Regions from separate parts of the Homo sapiens genome. Here region 2 is reported to be linked to region 1. Evidence: microRNA targets listed by miRTarBase, many of them from high-throughput screens and not tested one by one. Region 1 holds a microRNA gene; the other region holds the end of a gene's coding sequence.
Evidence for each region. The annotated mature microRNA hsa-miR-4288 reads UUGUCUGCUGAGUUUCC and lies in region 1 at 2,999-3,015, shown strand. An mRNA with a match to its seed (bases 2 to 7 or 8) in the 3' UTR can be bound and repressed. Matches are read on the target gene's strand: a 7mer-m8 pairs with bases 2 to 8, a 7mer-A1 pairs with bases 2 to 7 and ends in A, and an 8mer does both.

Region 2: the mRNA of PET117 is a reported target of hsa-miR-4288. Seed matches in the 3' UTR shown: 7mer-A1 at 913-919 and 7mer-m8 at 1,075-1,081.

The regions. Positions count from the first base shown.
Region 1 is chr8:28,503,740-28,508,140 of GRCh38, reverse strand. MIR4288 (microRNA 4288) reads left to right here and starts at 2,959; the gene lies at 2,959-3,025. All of the region lies in intron 3 of FZD3 (frizzled class receptor 3), which reads right to left.
Region 2 is chr20:18,141,470-18,145,870 of GRCh38, forward strand. It overlaps PET117 (PET117 cytochrome c oxidase chaperone), which reads left to right. Exons shown (of 2, transcript NM_001164811.2): 2 at 739-1,700. The coding sequence ends at 888. KAT14 (lysine acetyltransferase 14) reads left to right here. Exons shown (of 11, transcript NM_001392073.1): 2 at 739-1,450; 3 at 3,764-3,882. The coding sequence starts at 1,192. Among named protein-coding and RNA genes, the nearest start is that of PET117, 5.8 kb to the left of the region's middle.

The sequences.
Region 1 (4,401 bases):
GGAGGATAGCTTCAGGCCAAGAGTTCAAGACCAGCCTGGGCAACATAGTGAGATCTTGCCTCTACAAAAAAAAAGTTCTTTAAAATTAGCCAGGCATGATGGCATGTACCTGTAGAACCTACTTTGGAGGCTGAGGTAGGGGGATTGTTTGAGCTTAGGAGCTTCAGGCTACAGTGAGCTATGATTGCTCCACTGCACTCCAGCCTGGGTGACAGAGCAAGACCTTGTGTCAAAAACAAAACACTCAGGAGCTACCATGTAGAGGCTCCCACTACCAAAGATGGAATATTTTGAGCCTCAATAATCACTGTGATAGATTTAAAACATCAAATATGTTAAAAAAAAAAAAAATCCTTGAGTTCACAATGAAACTTAAACCAAAAAAAAAACAAAAACCCTCACTGGTCACCTTTGATGGATGCTTGGGAATCAACTAATTATTCTAAAAACTAATAACGGGGGAACATGCAAGCACTTATCCTATCTTTCTTATATAAACTGTATATGAAAGTAATCCAATAGTCAATGAGAAGTTTCCAAATATTCCAGCTAAGAAATGAAGAAAGGGTGACAGAATTAGAGTATCACCATTTTGCAAACCCCTAACAAAACTATTGGTCTAGGAAATCATCAATGGCTGCTAACATTTATAAAAAGAGTAACAACTTAATATTATGTGCTCCTGGCAGGAGTATGTTAGCTACCTATGAAGTATTCCTTCCAAAACAACAATAAAAAACCAAACTCGTGTCTAATCAAGCCTCTACAGTGCCTGTTTACAAAAATAAATGAGACAGAGACACGGTAAACAACACCACAGGGATGCAATCAGCAAAATAAAGACTATGGGAAACTCTATAAGATAAATATATCACAAGAAAAAAGGGGAACAGGAAAGGAAAACCTATAAATTAAAACAGACTTAAGAGACATATCAATTGGATGCAATGTATGAACCCTGATTAGAAAAAGCCAGTATGAAAAAAAATTGTGAAATATGCAAGAGTAATTTGAACATTAATTTGATACTTGACACTGATAAAGGAATAAAGGTATTGTGTTCATATATTTTGAAAGATACCTTACTTTTCGGAGGTATATAACAAAATATTTATGGATGAAATTTTGATATACGAAATTTGTTTCAAGGTGACCCAGAAGGGCATGCAGTGATAATGAAACAAGACTAGCTATGAGTTGGTAATGTTTAAGGCTGGATGCTGGATACATGGCACTTCATTATATTATTCTATTTGTATATAATGGAAATTTCCATAATAAAGTTTTTTAGTAAAAAGCTCAAATTTGAGTTTGGATAACTGAGAGACTGGTTGAAACATACTCTGTTCTTAATGAACCATAAAAGATACAGGATGTTCAGGCTTTTAGGCTCTGTGTTCCTACTAGGATTATTTCACTGCCAGCTTTCCATGCTCCCATTATAAGAAAACCTTAAATCATAAAAAAATCTTTAATGAGAATGACAAAGGAAAACAGGAAACGGAGGCAAACACAAACCATTCCAGGAGTTTTTCCTCTGATTATCCTATAGAGAGGCCTACTTTCCTCTATATATGGGGTGGGGAGGGGCAAGCAATCAACCTCCCAAAGAGATTAAAGATTGCTCGTTCCACACACTAACTGAAATGAAAAAACAGGGTGACAGGCAACAAAGAAGAATGCTCTGTATTCACACAGCACTTTAACTTTTCAAAATTCTTTAACATAAATGCCACTTATCTCACTTGATCTTAACAATAACCCTATAAAATGGCAGGAAAAAAATTTACTTCCTATTGGAAATCAACACAAAGAGGTCTCAAACCTAGTTAGTGACAGAATACAAGTCTCCTATCCCTATTCTAGTGCTTCTTCCACTAATCTGTTCCCGTCCTAGCCAATTTGGTTCAATTATTCAGTATGAGGAAAAGCCTGCCCAGATCTCTTTTATTACCACTAGAGTCGTAAATACCTGATAATAGGTGGCTCAGTAAAGATTGCTACTGACATTTGTTGATTATTGCTCCATGCTGAACAGTTCCCAAAAATTTACTTAGCAATTTGGACAGCTCAAAATGGTTTGGAAGGCTCAGAAGTGAGCATTTTTTTCCTATCAAAAGCTACTCATACACAGGGGAAAAGAGAACGTCAAGTTAACAACTTAGAAAAACGTAGCATGTGTGTTTGCATATTGATGTGCACGTTTTGGAAGGCAGAGATAAAGAAATAAACATATTAGCAAGAACCTTCTTTTCTAACTTAATGGATTGACACTTATCTATTTAAACATGTCCCAATCTCAATAAAAGTACAGAGTATGTACCCTGTAGACACAATGTAAGAAGATCCAACTTGTTGATTGTGAATAAAACTTAAAATAACCCAGATTCTGCTCTTTCTCCTATTTGTGGCTAATCTAGCTTACTGCCCACATACCATTGTGTTCCAGGCACTCCTTTTAACTCACAAAACAGTAAAGGAATGGACTCCAGCCAGGCGCGGTGGCTCATGCCTATAATCCAGCACTTTGGGAGGCCCAAGTGGGTGGATCGCTTCAGCCCAGGAGTTCGAGATCAGCCTGGGCAACATGGCAAAACCTTGTCTCTAAAAAAATACAAAAAAATTAGCCAGGGGTGGCGGCACACACCTGTAGTCCCAGCTACTTGGGAGGCTGAGGCAGAGGATCACCTGAGCCTGGGAGGTTGAGGCTGTGGTGAGCCATGATTGCACAACAGCACTCCAGTGTGGGCCACAGAGTGAGACCATGTCTCAAAAAAAAATAAAAAAAGAAAAAAGGAATGGACTCTAGGCAGGCTTAAAGCCTGGGGCCTGCTGAAAGATGCTACACCTAGGAAACTGTCTTTGAATTCATTCAGTCTCACAGCAAACACTCAAGAGTGTGCTGGGTTTGCTCCAATTACTTGTGCCTGCTAAGCTGGTTCCTGGATCAGTAGAGGGATGGAGGTGGAGAGTCATCAGCAGCACTGAGCAGGCAGTGTTGTCTGCTGAGTTTCCACGTCATTTGCTATTAAAGAAACGTTACACTCTCAAACTGTGTTTGATTATTCTTTCTGTCAGTGGCATCACTGTCCTGATACGATAAACATGCAATATGCAACTATTCCCAACATTACTTCAAGTCATTAGAGCCTTCTCTTAGAAACTATTACTCACTTAGGTGCTCTCCCCAGAATGTCAGTGTCTGAAATTCAAACAGAGGCAACCCCATTGTCACTGAAATATCTAGACTACTTGTGCATATTTGAGAAGTCAGAGAGAGCCTATCATGCTATCACTATGAATGAATGCCCCATGAACCTACAATGAGGGATGCAAATTCACTGGAGCAAATACATGGTGTTTCTAGTACTTCCCTTTAGATGATTTAGAAATGGAATTTGGAGTAGAATTAATATTTGTGAATCACCTATTGCGTATGATGCATTGTGCTAGCTACTTCATAAATCTCTTATTTAATCCTAACAGCCCTTCAAGGTGTATCATTATACTGCCTTTTCACAAATGAAGAAAACAAAGATCAGGAGTGTTAAGTAACCTGTCCAAAGTCTTAAACCTACTACATGGCAGAGCCAAAAGTTGAACCCAAGTCAGGACAAACATCTTTATGACCTGCTTCTTATTAACCTATTTGCTTCCCAAAGGAGTTATGATTTAAAATGATACCAGAAATAAAAATGTTTCTAGTTCAATTTTCTGTGAGAAATTGATAGCTTTAATACATAGCAAAGACTACCATGCCTGGAACCAACTTACTGTATTAAACCAATACCCATTTTTATATATCCTAATCTGATAGCCTATACCAATTCTCTCTCTTCAACCACTTAGACCTCGTGTACTCAGAGGAAAAGCAAAAAATGTTTTGTTCAACCTCTACAGCATTTTCAAATATTTGGAATATATAAGATGCCCTCCTTATTTCAAAATCTATGAATAATAATCTTACAAATTTTCTTAGACTTAGGTTAGTCTCCCTTAAAATGATGAACTTTTCGGTTTTATTATAAAATGAAGAATTCCAAAACATGTAGGCTTCCATTTGCTGAAAGCGCTATGGAAATAGGCTGAAGAGTAATGTATCAAACATTCCCTCTAAATTATGTTATGTAACCACGTTAATATGAGAATATGAATTAACGGTAAAAGCTATCACTTATAGAGTACTTACTATGCGCCAAGTACTATACATGGATTTTCACTTTGTACCTTACTGAAGTCTCTAAGTTACAAGCAAAGAAACTATGGTGAGAAAGTTCATATAACGTGGCCAAAGTATACAGCTAGAAAGTGGTAGAGGTAGAATTCAAACCCAGGTTTGTCTACCTCAAAGCCTATGGTCATTACCACCACTGCTTACTGCCTGCTAGTTCTTATCTGGTA
Region 2 (4,401 bases), not on the chromosome of region 1:
TGCATTTTTTCTGTTGGTGTTTATTGTTCAGCTAGGATAAGTGCTAACAGAAGAGTAGTTTAGAGTGTTACTGTAGTAACTCGCCAAGTTTTTAAAGCATTACATATCAATTAAACTTTAAAAATTTAACATTGGCCGGGTGCAGTGGCTCACGCCTGTAATCCGGCACTTTGGGAGGCTGAGGCAGGTGGATTACTTGAGATCAGGAGTTCGAGACCAGCTTGGCTGACGTGGTGAAACCCCGTCTCTACTAAAAATACAAAAATTAGCTGGGCATGGTGATGCACGCCTGTAGTCTCAGCTACTCGGGAGGCTGAGGCCGGAGAATCACTTGAACCCAGGAGGTGGAGGTTGCGGTGAGCTGCGGAGTGCAGCCACTGCACTCCAGCCTGGGCGACAGAGCGAGACTCTTGTCTCAAAAAATAAATAAAAAAAAATTTAACATAGTGCCAGTTTTTTTTTTCTGTTATTTCCCATTAAATTTTCTGTACTAAATGTTCAGGAATTTCTTAAAATATGATAAGAAATCATTTCAGTAATAACATTTAGCACACTACCAAATTTATTTGATCGTTTATTACATTTTACATTTGTACAGAAAATTAAAATAGTAACTGGGTATTTGGAATCTGAAAGTTTTAAGTATATTTTGGTAACACTGTTATTTGGATTTGAATGGCACAAGGATGGGGACCACCTGTTCGGGATGTTACTGAAATCTGTTTCTTACGTTTTTAGAGGCTTCGTGACGGAGTTATCAGAGACATTGAGAGGCAAATTCGGAAAAAAGAAAACATTCGTCTTTTGGGAGAACAGATTATTTTGACTGAGCAACTTGAAGCAGAAAGAGAGAAGATGTTATTGGCAAAAGGATCTCAAAAATCATGACTTGAATGTGAAATATCTGTTGGACAGACAACACGAGTTTGTGTGTGTGTGTTGATGGAGAGTAGCTTAGTAGTATCTTCATCTTTTTTTTTGGTCACTGTCCTTTTAAACTTGATCAAATAAAGGACAGTGGGTCATATAAGTTACTGCTTTCAGGGTCCCTTATATCTGAATAAAGGAGTGTGGGCAGACACTTTTTGGAAGAGTCTGTCTGGGTGATCCTGGTAGAAGCCCCATTAGGGTCACTGTCCAGTGCTTAGGGTTGTTACTGAGAAGCACTGCCGAGCTTGTGAGAAGGAAGGGATGGATAGTAGCATCCACCTGAGTAGTCTGATCAGTCGGCATGATGACGAAGCCACGAGAACATCGACCTCAGAAGGACTGGAGGAAGGTGAAGTGGAGGGAGAGACGCTCCTGATCGTCGAATCCGAGGATCAGGCATCAGTGGACTTATCGCACGACCAGAGTGGGGATTCCCTCAACAGTGATGAAGGAGACGTGTCTTGGATGGAGGAGCAGCTGTCCTACTTCTGTGACAAGTGCCAAAAATGGATACCAGCCAGTAAGGAGCTTCTCAATTCCTTTGATTTGTCAATTCCTGTGTGAAGGTTTGTTTTTCCAACCTGTGAAAGAAACGTGAATGTAAAAGAGACCTAAATAAAAGGATAATTATATTTATTCTCTAGTTGATCAGCTATAAATTTATATAAAACATAGGCATGTTTGTACTAATGAAACGTACTGTCAACCTCTATCACATTGTTAAATTAACACTTTTGGTGGTAACTCAATAAAATTGAGAAAATTGGAAATCCTGTGTTACTTAAAGAATTAGCCATATTTTTCTAACAAGGTCACAGAGATTTAGGGCCAAATTCCAGTCCCAGTGTTGAATTCATGTTCAAGTTTATAAAAATTACTTTGTTAATATTTAACTTACGTGGAGAACTCCTGCTATTGTATACTGAAAAGAGGTTAGAATTAGCAGATTGAAGGTGTTTTTTGCCCTTTTTCTAGGACCAGTCTTTTTTTCCATTTTCCTTTTTTTCTGCTGGCAAGAGATACCTCATACACACTCCCTGATTGCCTCAATCTTGAGATTTTCTTTTCTTTCTTTTTTTTTTTTGAGATGGAGTTTTGCTTTTGTTGCCCAGGCTAGAGTGCAATGGCATGATCTCGGCTCCTGGGTTCAAGCGATTCTCCTGCCTCAGCCTCCCAAGTAGCTGGGATTATAGTGTTTGCCAGCACACCTGGCTAATTTTTTTTTTTATTTTATTTTTTTTTTTTGAGACGGAGTTTTCCTCTTATTGCCCAGGCTGGAGTGCAATGGCATGATCTTGGCTCACTGCAACCTCCGTCTCCCAGGTTCAAGTGATTCTCCTGCCTCGGCCTCCCGAGTAGCTGGGATTACAGGCATGCGCCACCATGCCCGGCCAATTTTGTATTTTTAGTAGAGATGAGGTTTCTTCTCCATGTTGGTCAGGCTGGTCTCAAACTCCCAACCTCAGGTGATCCATCCGCCTCGGCCTCCCAAAGTGCTGGGATTACAGGCATGTGCTACTGTGCTCGGCCCTGATCTTGAGATTTTCAATGGCCAGCTTCCTGGCACCTGAGGAGTATGGCTTGCCAGCCATCATATGGTTTATACCGAAACAGGATTTTCCCATTAGGCAAGAGACTAGTAAAGATATAGGTACTTGAGGAATGCCTTTGTGTAATATAATTTGTAACCAAGTCAGAGAAATACATATATAACTGTGAAGAGGGTCATTTTCTGGCATGTGGAAATGTTTTTCTTAAAATGGGTTCAACTTCAAATTTAGTCACTGTTAACAAATTAATAGTAACATTTTCACAGGAAATGCAGAATTTACTAGTTAGCTGGTTTTTGCTTCTGAGCGGTCTCTGTTATTGATTTCAGGTTCTGCCTGAATTCTCAGTGGCTTTCCCTTTGTCCTGTTGAGGACAAATTTTAAGCTACCCTTTGTGGTCAGGACCCTGCTAACTGTAGTTTCTTTGATTCCCACACAACTTTGCAGTTAGGGTGAACTTATTCTTCACAAACAATTCTTATCCTTAGGGCTTTGCACAGTTTTTTTCTTCTGGAATATGCATCTCCACAGCCTCCATTCTCCCTATACACAAAGAGACCCCTTTTCACCTGGCCAATTTCTAATCCTAAGCCTCCCCCTAATATAGGTTGGGCCTCCTTTTATTTACCCTCACACTGCCCTGTGGTACACAGCACATTCCATTCCTTATGTGTCACAGAGCATCAGCATCACCTGAGGGACTAAGAAATGTAACTCCTAGGCTCTGCTTCAGAAATTGATGCATTTTATCTGGGCTAGAATCAAGCATATTTAGAAAACCAAGAACAACTTGGGTGATTCCAATGCACTGTGAGCATGGAGAACCACTGTGTTGTTGTGATCACCTGTTTTCTATGCAGCCCTCAGGGAAGTGCAAACCTGTGAGATCAGGCACCATTATCTGTCTTGGACTTTGTATTCCCAGTTCCTAGCCCAGTGCCTGGTATGCAGAGGGAGCTCATATTTTTTGAAAGAATGTGTGAAGAGACCTGCCTCTGGGAGTCAGGAATGTGACAATTGGGAAATCCAGCAACAATACCTGCTTTTCCAGTACCTTTCTCCTAAAAGTTACTGGATCCTACAGATCTTAGTGGGCGTATACTTGGTGTTAGAAGAATAGAAATCTTTCTAATTCCCTTCCTTTTCCCCATTTTGCAATTGTGGGTTGGCTGAAGAAAAGAAGACAACATGGGAAAGGAAAATCTGGGTGATAAACGGATTAAACCTTTAGGTTACCGCTGCTCTAGATAAACCCATGATGTGACTTTTTGTTTTTCTCCTAGGTCAGCTGAGGGAACAGCTCAGTTACCTTAAGGGTGATAATTTTTTTAGGTTTACTTGTTCGGATTGCTCAGCAGATGGCAAGGAGCAGTATGAAAGGCTGAAGCTGACATGGCAGCAAGTGAGTAAAAAGCCCTTCCCCAAATCCATGAGGGTGGTTCCCCCAGGAGTTTGTTGGAACGAATATCTAGAAACTTAGGGATGAGCTTTTGAGTTGTTTGGAGGGGCACTTTTTATTTCGCAATGAAATTAGATACCGAATATGTGGAGAAGGGAGTGAAAAATACTCGCTGTAATCCCAGCACTCTGGGAGGCCAAGGCGGGCAGATCACCTGAGGTCAGGACTTCGAGACCAGCCTGGCCAACATGGTGAAACCCCATTTCCATTGAAAATACAAAAATTAGCTGGCTATGGTGGTGGGCCCCTGTAATCCCAACTACCTGGGAGACTGAGGCAGGAGAATCGCTTGAACCTGGGAGGCGGAGGCTGCAGTGAGCCCACACCGTGCCACTGTACTCCAGCTTGGGCGACAAAGTGTGACTCCTTTTCAAAAAAAAAAAAATATATTCACTGCTGACTTGGTGAATTGGGCTTGAGAGGCTTGAGAATCTCATGATTTCTTTTATATGTGATACCAAG